Regions from separate parts of the Homo sapiens genome. Here region 1 is linked to region 2. The links come from fine-mapping of genetic effects on gene expression. A gene starts in region 2. The other region holds a variant in brackets. All regions are shown on one strand. Distances are from middle to middle. Region 1 has its middle 12 kb from the start of EIF4B. Region 2 holds the start of KRT18 (keratin 18).

Region 1 (5,371 bases), 46 kb before region 2:
ACTCACTGCAACCTCCACCTTCTGGGTTCAAGCGATTCTTCTGCCTCAGCCTCCTGAGTAGCTGGGATTACAGGCATGGGCTACCACGCCTAGCTAACTTGTATTTTTAGTAGAGACGGGGTTTCACCATGTTGGCCAGGCTGGTCTCGAACTCCTGATCTCAGGTGATCTACCCACCTCAGCCTCCCAAAGTGCTGGGATTACAGGTGTGAGCCACCACACCTGGCCAATTGTATACTTTCAATGGGTGGATTGTTTGGTATGTTAACTGTATCTCAAAGCTGTTTTTAAAAAAACGTAGGCAAAATAAACACATATTCAGATACAAGAAAACTAAGAATTCATTGCCAATAGACTGTATTTAAGCCAGCTGGGCAAGGTGGCTCACGCCTGTAATCCTACCACTTTCGGAGGCTGAGTTGGGCAGACTGTCTGAGCTCAGGAGTTTGAGACCAGCCTGGGCAACAGGCAACCCCGTCCCTACTGAAAATACAAAAAATTAGCTGAGTGTGGTGGTGCACACCTGTAGTCCCAGCTACTCAGGAGGCTGAGGCACGAGAATCCCTTGAACCTGGGAGGCAGAGGTTGCAGTGAGCCAAGATCACGCCACTGCACTCAAGCCTGGGCAACAGAATGAGACTCGTCTCAAAAAAATAAAAGATAAGAAAGAACTGTATTACAGCCAAACTAAAGGAAGTTCTTCAAACTAAGGGGAAATGATACCAGAGGGAAATGCATATATTTAGGAAGGAATAAAGAGTATTTATATAGTAGGTTACCAGGTAAGTGTAAAAGGCATATTTTCGTCTTAATTTCTTTTTCAAAATTATTTTTATTTATGATTTATTTATTAAAAATACTACAGGCCGGGCACGGTGGCTCACGCCTGTAATCTCAACACTTTAGGAGGCCAAGGCGGATGGATCACCCGAGGTCAGGAGTTCAAAACCAGCCTGACCAACATGGAGAAACCCCATCTCTACTAAAAATACAAAGTTAGCCGGGTGTAGTGGCAGACGCCCTTAATCCCATCTACTCAGGAGGCTGAGACAGGAGGATTGCTTTGAACCCAGGAGGCGGAAGTTGCAGTGAGCCAAGATCACGCCATTGCACTCCAGCCTGGGCAACAGGAGTGAAACTCTGTCTCAAAAACAAACAAACAAAAAAAACCAAAAAAACCCCAAAACCCTATAATACGCATATTTGCTTTTCTGTGGGCCTTTTTTTTTTTTTTGTTTTGAGTTGTAAGCTCATTCTGTCATCCAGGCTGGAGTGCAGTGGCACGATCTTGGCTCACCACAACCTCCATTTCCCAGGTTCAAGCGATTCTCCTGCCTCAGCCTCCTGAGTAGCTGGGATTACAGGCACACACACCACGACGCCCAGATTATTTTTAGTAGAGATGGGGTTTCACCGTGTTGGCCAGGCTGGTCACGAACTCCTGACCTCGAGTGATCAAGCCTCGGCTTCCCAAAGTGCTGGGATTACAGGTGTGAGCCATTGCGCTTGGCCCTGTGTTTTTTTAAGAGACAAGGTCTTATTCTGTCACCCAGGCTGGAGTGCAGTGGCCTTAAATCTCTGTGCTCAAGCAATCCTCCTACCTCAGCCCCCCAGGCAGCTGGGACTACAGGTGTGTGCCACCACACTCAGCTTATTTTTATTTTTTATATGTTTTTGGTAGAGACTGGGATTTCACTATGTTGCCCAGGGTGGTCTCGAACTCCTGGCCTCAAGCAGTTCTCTTGTCTCGGCCTCCCAAAGTGTTGGGATTACAGAGGCATAAACCACCATGCCCTGCCCCTCTTAATTTATTTGAAATACACTTGACTGCCAAAAGCAAATATTAGAACATGGTCTTGGGGAATTATAATGTATTTAAATGTAATACATACAACTATAGCTAAAACATAGTGGGAACTGGGCCAGGCGTGGTGGCTCATGCCTATAATCCCAACACTTTGGAAGGCCGAGGCAGGATGATCCCTTGAGCCCAGGTATTGGAGACCAGCCATGGGCAACATGGTGAAATCCTATTTCTACAAAAAAAAAAAAAAAAAAAAAAAAAATAGCTGGGCGTGGTGGTGTGTGCCCATAGTCCCAGCTACTCAGGAAGCTGAGGTGGGTGGGTCACTTGAGCCCGGGAGTTCGAGATTGCACTGAGCTGTGATTGCCACTGCACTCCAACCTGGGTGACAGGAAGACCCTGTCTCAAAAACAAACAAACAAACAAACAAATAAATGAATGAAAAGAAGGCTGGGCGTGGTGGCTCACACCTGTAATCCCAGCACTTTGGGAGGCCAAGGTGGGCGGATCATGAGGTTAGGAGTTCGAGACTAGCCTGACCAACATAGCGAAACCCCGTCTCTGCTGAAAAAATACAAAAATTATCCGGGCATGGTGGCGGGCACCTGTAATCCCAGTTACTCAGGAGGCTGAGGCAGGAGAATTGCTTGAACCCAGCAGGTGGAGGTTGCAGTGAGCCGAGATTCCTCCACTGCACTCCAGCCTGGGTGACAGAGTAAGACTCCATCTCAAAAAAAAAAAAAAAAAAAAGTTAAAAAATAAATAAATTAAAAAGAAGACCGGGTGCAGTGGCTCATGCCTGTAATCCCAGCACTTTGAGAGGCCAAGGTGGGCGGATCATGAGGTTAGGAGTTCAAGCCCATCCTGGCCAATATGGTGAAACCCC[G/A]TCTTTACTAAAAAATACAAAAATTAGCCAGGCATGGTGATGCTCGCCTGTAGTCCCAGCTACTCAGGAGGCTGAGGCTGGAGAATCTCTTGAACCCGGGAGGTGGAGGTTGCAGTGAGCCGAGATTGCACCACTGCACACCAGCCTGGGCGACAGAGCAAGACTCCATCTCAAATAAATAAATAAATAAATAAATAAATAAATAAATAAATAAGGCCGGGTGCGGTGGCTCACGCCTGTAATCCCAGCACTTTGGGAGGCTAAGGCGGGCGGATCACGAGGTCAGGAGATCGAGACCATCCTGGCTAACACGGTGAAACCCCGTCTCTACTAAAAATACAAAAAATTGGCTGGGTGTGGTGGTGGGCACCTGTAGTCCCAGCTACTCGGGAGGCTGAGGCAGGAGACTGGTGTGAACCCGGGAGTTGGAGCTTGCAGTGAGCCGAGATCACGCCACTGCACTCCAGCCTGGGCGACAGAGTGAGATTCCGTCTCAAACAAACAAACAAACAAACAAACAAACACTTTTCAGGAAAATCACATAAATTGGTCTTCCTGAACATTTTACATGGGAACTGGTACTATCCAGAGCCTACTGTGCAGGTTTTTGCTCCAGTTCAGTCTTTAGGAGCTATGCAGAGCAAGAGTAAAGAGAAGAAATGCAATATAGGGGGAAGGAAAGTAGGTAGAATTCAGAATAGCCTTTTTGACTCTAAGGAATTTGAAATATGCAAAGGTTGTAACACAAGAACATTTTGAATCTTCATCTGTGGAGAAGCAGCAGGCACCCCCTCAGCAGTGTGACCAGGAGATATGAAAGATATAGCCAGGTCACCTCCCAGGGGTAGGTTCTGTCACTTACAGACAGAACCTTGGCATGAAACACTGGGCTAGTGTAGGGTTCTGTTGTGATGGCTGCTCCCTGGTGGCATTCCACAAGGTTCTCTCCTCAGCACTCCTCTCTTTTTGTACCAAAGGCTGCAAATGCCAGTGTCTCCAGGAGCCAGGTAGATGATGTGAATGATTTAAGCAGCCTGGCAAGCATGTGGCAAACTGCAGAGCACATGTTCCATGTGGCAGAAACATTTACTGCTCACCCAATATCCATGAGCTGCCCCACGTTTCTCAGGCCCCTGATGAGGGTCCTGGGACTAGTTTCAGCAAATGGACGGTTAGTTCAAGTACCATTTCACTTTGTGTTGGAAGCATGTAAGTGCCACAAAGCAGCCCTTCAGCTCCGGCTCCCTGAAGGGATCATCCAGAGCGTAAATTGGAATAGCAGAGTCATGAGATATGTGCAGCCTGGATCCCTGAGTCATTGCAAGGAAGAAAGCTACCCTGGAGAGTTGCCTGATTCACCCTGGACTTTGCTCGAACAAGAAACAAATCTTCATTGTGTTAAGTTGCTGATATTTTGTCATTGTCGCCTAGCCTACTCTATGTACTTTCTTTAAAGGTGACAGTCACAACTCAACCCTGACTCTCATTGTCAACTGAAATAGGGCCCAACGTTACCAGATCTTCCAGTTTTTCAAGATAAACTAGATATATGGATTTTTTTTTGGTGAAATAGTCCAACATTTAAAAGTGGATAGTTAATTCAAAAAATCACAACCCTGTGTAGCCCAAATAAAGCACACCTGGGGCCAATTTAGCCCATGGGCCACCAGTTGCAACTTGTGCCCTGCCCTGTTTTCCTTAGTGACTTATCAATTCCCAAAGCTTCTGTTGTCACTCCTGTTCAGATGGGGGCAAAGACCCTATCTTTGTGTCAAAGCTCCTGGTGAGCTCAGTGAATGCCTTCAACCTTTCAACCATGTATTTCTAGCTTTAGCTTAAATGCTGGAGTGTAGCCCCAGCATGTTCTTTTTTTTTTTTTTTTTTGAGACAGAGTCTCACTCTATCCCTCACGCTGGAGTGCAGTGGCGTGATCTCGGCCCACTGCAACCTCCACCTCCTGGGTTCAAGTGATTCTCAAACCTCAGCTTCCCCCAAGCAGCTGGCATTACATGTGCCCACCACCATGCCCGGCTAATTTTTGTATTTTTAGTAGAGACAGACAGGGTTTTGCCATGTTGACCAGGCTGGTCTCAAACTGCTGACCTCAGGTGATCTGCCCACCTCAGCCTCCCAAAGTGCAGGGATTACAGGCATGAGCCACCGTGCCCAGCCTCAGAATGTTCTTTAAGCTGTCAGTCCTACCTGTCCCCCAACAGCATAAGTACACACTGTTAGGGGCCTAATGGCTCCTTCTTTCCTTTTTCTTTCTTTCTTTCTTTTTTTTTTTTTGAGATGGAGTCTTGCTGTGTCGCCAGGCTAGAGTGCAGTGGCACGATCTCAGCTCACTGCAATCTCTGCCTCCCGGGTTCAAGTGATTCTCCTGCCTCAGCCTCCCAAGTAGCTGGGATTACAGGTGCCTGCCAGTATGCCCAGGTAATTTTTGTATTTTTAGTAGAGATGGAGTTTCACCTTGTCGGCCAGGATGGTCTTGATCTCTTGACCTCGTGATCTGCCTGCCTCGGCCTCCCAAAGTGCTGGGATTACAGGTGTGAGCCACCGCGCCTGGCCTTTTCTTTTCTTTTTTAAGAGCTGGGTCTTGCTATGTTGCCCAGGCTGAGCTCCTGGGCTCAAGCAATCCTCTAGCCTCAGCCTTCCAAGTAGCTAGAACAATAGGCATATGC
Region 2 (5,371 bases):
GTCAGAGCTCCAACAAGGCCTTTCTTCTGTGATTGCCTCTTCTAGGAGGCCTACAGTTGGAGAAGAGACAGGAGGAACCCCTTGGCTTGCACTCAGGGCAATGCCAGTTCTGGCCTTTCTACTCCAGTGGGTAGAAATGCCACCCACTCACTGATGGTTTCTCTGTAACTTCACCCTGTTCCTTTATCCACCCTCCCCTTCACAAACCTGCTCCTTCTACCATCTTTTAGGAAGCGCTGCCAACTCCATCTGCTGTCATTCCTTTATCACCCCCAGCTCCTAGTGTTAGCTGCTTCTACTTCTGTTCTCATCTCATTTTCTAACCCATATCATTTTGACCTGTAATTCAGGTGAGCCAGGGTGTACTCGACCCCCTGAGAATGCTCTTCATCAGAACGGTCTTATTTAAGAAGAGCCCAGGCTGCTATTTCTAAACGTCTTAGCAAGGCTACTTGCAGTTGGTTTGTCTTGTCTATTCTCCGACCCAGACTTCTCTTGGCCCCTCAATCCCTGGCCTGGCCAGTGGCCCCTGCTTGCCTCTTCGTGGTTCTTCTTCATGAAGAGCAGCTCCTCCTTGAGAGCCTCGATCTCTGTCTCCAGCTGCAGTCGTGTGATATTGGTGTCATCAATGACCTTGCGGAGCCCATGGATGTCGTTCTCCACAGACTGGCGCATGGCCAGCTCTGTCTCATACCTATAGGAGTGGAGGTGATCAGAGGGGCCCCTATCTCTGATCCAGAACCTTCTCAACTCATGCCACCTACTAAGAGAAGTTCTGTGCCCATTGCAAACCAGCAACTTGAGTCAGCAATTAGGTGGTAATCCCCTGAGCACCATTCTTGGCACTTGGAGGACAGTATTCTTAAACGGGGTTATACAAATGAACAGTTAAATGAATACACTGATGGACCCTGACTCTCATCCACCCACACCTAACAGGATCCCACTGTGAGCCCCTAACTGACCCAGCCTGGGGAGCAGATCCTTCTTAGCTCCACCCCTGGACCCCCAGCTCTCTAGCCCCCAAACTTACTTGACTCTAAAGTCATCAGCAGCAAGACGGGCATTGTCAATCTGCAGAACGATGCGGGCATTGTCCACAGTATTTGCGAAGATCTGGAGGGATTGTAGAGAGAGGTTGTTCCATGAATAGAAAGCCAGGGATGGGTGGGGTGAGTGTGTAAAAAGTGTTATGTATCCTAGTGAAAACTTCCTGGTCCCAGGAATAGCCAGAGGCTCTCCCTGGACACCTATCCCTTTTCATCTAGCCCCACCCCATTCCCTCCTTTCCTGGATTCCCAGATCCCAGCACTCTGCCCCTCTTGGGAAGCCTCAGCAGGCTGGCTAGCTGGCTGGCCTGCCTGCCCAGAAGTGAGTCGCTACTAACAAGTCCTCTTCCTGGCCCTCTCCTGGCATTTTTTCCCTAGTGCACCTGGTCACTCTGGGCCCCCTACACCCTGGATTGGCTCCTCCCAAAGGAAGGCCTCTTGTTTACTCCTAGATGACTCAGCCTTAGCCACATCCGCTTAACCCTCCAATAGTCCCCATTCCGCCAGAGCCAGTGTCTCCTCCTCTTTACAGGCCTTTCCTTACCTCCCTCCATGCTGTCCACTTCCTCTGTAAAGCTCTCAACCCTGTCCCCTTCCCCCTCTCTCCTGGGAAAGAGCCCTCCCATGCCTAGCTGCTGCTCTTAGGGACCCTGTGGCTAGGTGCGCGGATGGAAATCCAGGTATGCCCAACCCCCTCCCGGTGGAGTAGGGGTTGGGTGGTTATGGAATGACGGAAAGAGGCAAAGGAGTGTATAATTGGAGGGTCAGACAAGGCTGGGAGTTGAGGTCCCTCCTACCCCTTACCTGAGCCCTCAGGTCCTCGATGATCTTGAAGTAATGGCTCCAGTCTCTGACCTGGGGTCCCTTCTTCTCCAAGTGCTCCCGGATTTTGCTCTCCAGCCTCCGGTTCTCGGTCTCCAGGCTCCTCACTCTGTCCAGGTAAGAGGCCAGGCGGTCGTTCAGGCTTTGCATGGTCTCCTTCTCGTTCTGGATGCCTCCCATTCCTGCCAGACCCCCGGCTATCCCGGTGGCCAGGCCCCCGGACCCCATGCCGCCCCTGAAGCTGGTGGAGCGGGACACGGAGATCCGGGAACCAGAGCCCCCAGCGCCTGCATAGACGCTGGCCGCGCTGCTGACCGGCCGGGCGCCGTAGCTGGGCGCCTGGACAGAGCCCAGGGACCGGTAGTTGGTGGAGAAGGTGGAGCGAGTGGTGAAGCTCATGCTGTCCGGGGAGAGAGAAAGGACAGGACTCAGGCTTTGCGGACGACGGTGGCGGCCTGCGCGAGCCGCGCGACCCGAGTTATATCGCAGAGTGAGGCCCCGCCCCCGCCCCGGAGCCGCTTCGGAAGCCGGAGCCACAGGTGGACGGCTCGGAGCCCGCGCCCTCCGCCCCGGGCCGCTCCGCCCCGGGCCCCACCCCCGCGCCCTCCGCGCAGCCCTGCCAAGCCCCGCTCACCCCCCAGAAACGGGGTGGCCAACCGGGCATGGACACGGACAGCAGGTGTTGTTGGCCCTCGAGGCTGCTTTCAGGGCAGGAAATGACGTTATTATGCTCTTCTCCCCCAGGTGGAGGAGGTGCTGGCGAGTTTGAAATTTGGGAGTCTTGACCGGGCGCAGTGGCTCACGCCTGTAATCTCAGCACTTTGGGAGGCCTAGGTGGGCGGATCACGAGGTCAGGAGATCGAGACCATCCTAGCCAACATGGTGAAACCCCCTCTCTACTAAAATACAAAAAATTAGCCGGACGTGATGGTGCACGCCTGTAGTCTCAGCTACTTGGGAGGCTGAGGAAGGGGAATCGCTTGAACCTGGGAGGCGGAGGTTGCAGTGAGCCGAGATCGCGCCACTGCAGCCTGGCGACAGAGTGAGACTCTGTCTCAAAAAAAAAAAAAAAAAAAAAGAAAAAAGAAATTTGGGGGTCTGGTGGTGTGCGGGTGGAATGGCCTGTGAGTCCCTCTAGCTGTCCTTAACCTGCAGCCCAAATTATCCACTTGTGGAGGGGATCTTGGGGGCATCCTGGAGCCCCAGGAGTCCCGGGGAAGAAAGGCTGGGAGCTGGAGAAGAGGAGGAGAAGCAATGCCCAGCCTCATAGCTGCTTGCTTACACACTCACACCCCAGCTGCACCTGGCTCCCAAACACTCCTCGCCTGCCCACGTTTCCTCACACACACTCACACCCGAATCATACAGAGGTGTGCTCTCAAATGCACACACACATACATTCACTCAGCAAATAGGTGCAGACTCCCCAAAACAAACCCAGTCTCTGAGCCCCCTCCACCACCCTCCCCTCTCCCGACCTCACTCCCAAGGGCCTTGCCTCAGTGGAACACTGTGATTTGGACAGGGAATGCATCCTGACTTCTGCACACCGGTATATCACCTTTCCTGCATCCTTAATTAAACAAATCCTGAGCATTTACAATTCAACCAGTATGCATTCAGCACCTACTGTGAGCCAGGCCCAGTTCTAGGAGCTGGGAGAGAAGGGCGGTGACAAAAGAGACCAAAAATCTCTCACAGAGATGATAATGTGTCCCACATCGCCGGGCACAGTGGCTCATGCCTGTAATCCAAGCACTTTGGGAGGCCGAGGCGGGTGGATCACTTGAGGTCAAGAGTTCGATGCCACTGCACTCCAGCCTAGACAACAGAGCAAGACTCTGTCTCAAAAAAAAAAAAAAAAAAAAAAAATTTGAGACCAGCCTGACCAACATGGTGACACCCCTTCTCTACTAAAAATACAAAAATTAACCAGGCACAGTGTGTGCCTGTAATCCCAGCTACTCAGGAGGCTGAGGCAGGAGAATCGCTTGAACCCAGGAGGCAGAGGTTGCAGTGAGCCAAGATCGTGCCGTCGCGCTCCAGCCTGGGCAACCAGAGCGAAACTCTGACTCAAAATAAATAAATAAATAAATAAATAAAAGTAATGTGTCCTACATCGCATGGGGCCTGAGAGGACAGGCAGGCACTCCTAGGACCATCATAGCAGCGACCCAGCCCTGGTGGCCAGTGCCCCTCCCCTCTTTTCTAGGACTTTTCTCCAAGCCAGTCCTTCCCCTGTCCCCCCTTGTAAGGGCTGTCTGGATTAGAAGCCTGGCCCCAGGGGACTGCATCCTCCAAGATGCTCTCCCCAGCCTCTGTGTGAGAAGGATGGAGGTAGGGAGGCTTTCATGCTGCCTGCCCCCTGAAGCTGAATGACCATCCCTGCTGAATGAAGTGTTGGGGGGAACCCTTAGGTGTTTGGCCTTCAAGTTTGTCAGCTCCAGCAGCTCGTTTTTCTGGCAGGGCCTGGTATGACACATTTGGCTGTGTTCTTTGCTCTGGAGTGGACCTATTGATTCTTATCGAGCTACCAGCTGAGGGGGAAGGGGAGGACAAATAGTAGGGCAGACCTGGGAGAGAAGGGACCCTGGAAAAGCCTGGCCAGTGGACCTGCCAGGTGGGAGGCAGAGCACAGATAAAGAGCCTGAGCCTGGATTGTTCCTGATCTGTCACCTAATGGTGGGGAGAGCCCCACAGTGCTCAATGGGAGCCAGCCAGGGGGCAGTCAGGGTGGAAGCTGGCCAGGGGAGGGTCGGGGCCTGCTGAAGGCTGGGAGGCAAACGGGATGCAAAATAACATACAAATGAATGCCCACTGGTTTTGCATACAAGGCTTCTGGGAGGTAAGAGGTTCCAGTCAGAGGGGTCTCTCCTGCTTTCACCTTTATATTCCCCCACTGGATTCCAGAACTGTCAAGTTGGGCAGTATTTTATAATAAAGTATGTGGAGTCAACAAGCTACGTACTGCCTTTTACTGTTATTGCTAAGCTTTAAGTCAGCCAGCCTGGATACTTTGCTAGCTGTGTAACCTTGGGGAAGTCACCTAACTCTGAACTTCAATTTCTTCACTTGTACAGGGAAAACAGTAAGACCTGTCCAGTCTATTTCCTCAGGTGGCAGTGAATGTGAGTGTAAATTGTCACTCACTCATTCATCAAACAAATACTAATTATTTGTACTGGAGCCTTCCTTCAAAGTAAGGAAGGCTTCAATATATACAGGAGGGCAGATAAAGGGGGTCAATTTAATTCGAAAGACGGGCTCAAGGGGTTTGAAGTCTGTCTCTCTGAGTCATTTAAAAACCCTGGGGCACTTTGAAATCTACCAGCAATCAAAACAGATTCTAGAATTTTTCTCCAAGCTAATTCCCAGGTCCTTGTCTGATTCCTGCCCCACCCCAACTGCTAGGAAACTTCTGGGACCTGTGGAGGTGCAGCGTGGGGGCTGGAGAGGGAGAGCTGCCAGCTAGACTTTATCTCTCCTACTGATGTCGATGG

Evidence for each region.
Region 1: its variant is fine-mapped to the expression of KRT18 in esophagus mucosa (GTEx, PIP 0.98).

What each region holds. Positions count from the first base shown.
Region 1 is chr12:52,991,884-52,997,254 of GRCh38, reverse strand. No RefSeq gene overlaps it. Among named protein-coding and RNA genes, the nearest start is that of EIF4B, 12 kb to the left of the region's middle. The variant G/A (reference allele first, on the strand shown) is at 2,691.
Region 2 is chr12:52,946,073-52,951,443 of GRCh38, reverse strand. KRT18 (keratin 18) reads right to left here and starts at 2,326. Exons shown (of 7, transcript NM_000224.3): 1 at 1,854-2,326; 2 at 1,034-1,116; 3 at 538-694. The coding sequence starts at 2,270. It also overlaps a transcript of KRT8 not described here. RefSeq lists silencers at 1,283-1,297, 1,401-1,419, 1,643-1,666, 2,328-2,377, 2,418-2,497 and 3 more, enhancers at 1,454-1,553, 1,155-1,809, 721-1,920, 1,744-2,337, 2,338-2,931 and 2 more, promoters at 2,297-2,358, 2,568-2,650, 2,728-2,738, 2,659-2,738 and a cis regulatory region at 2,568-2,650.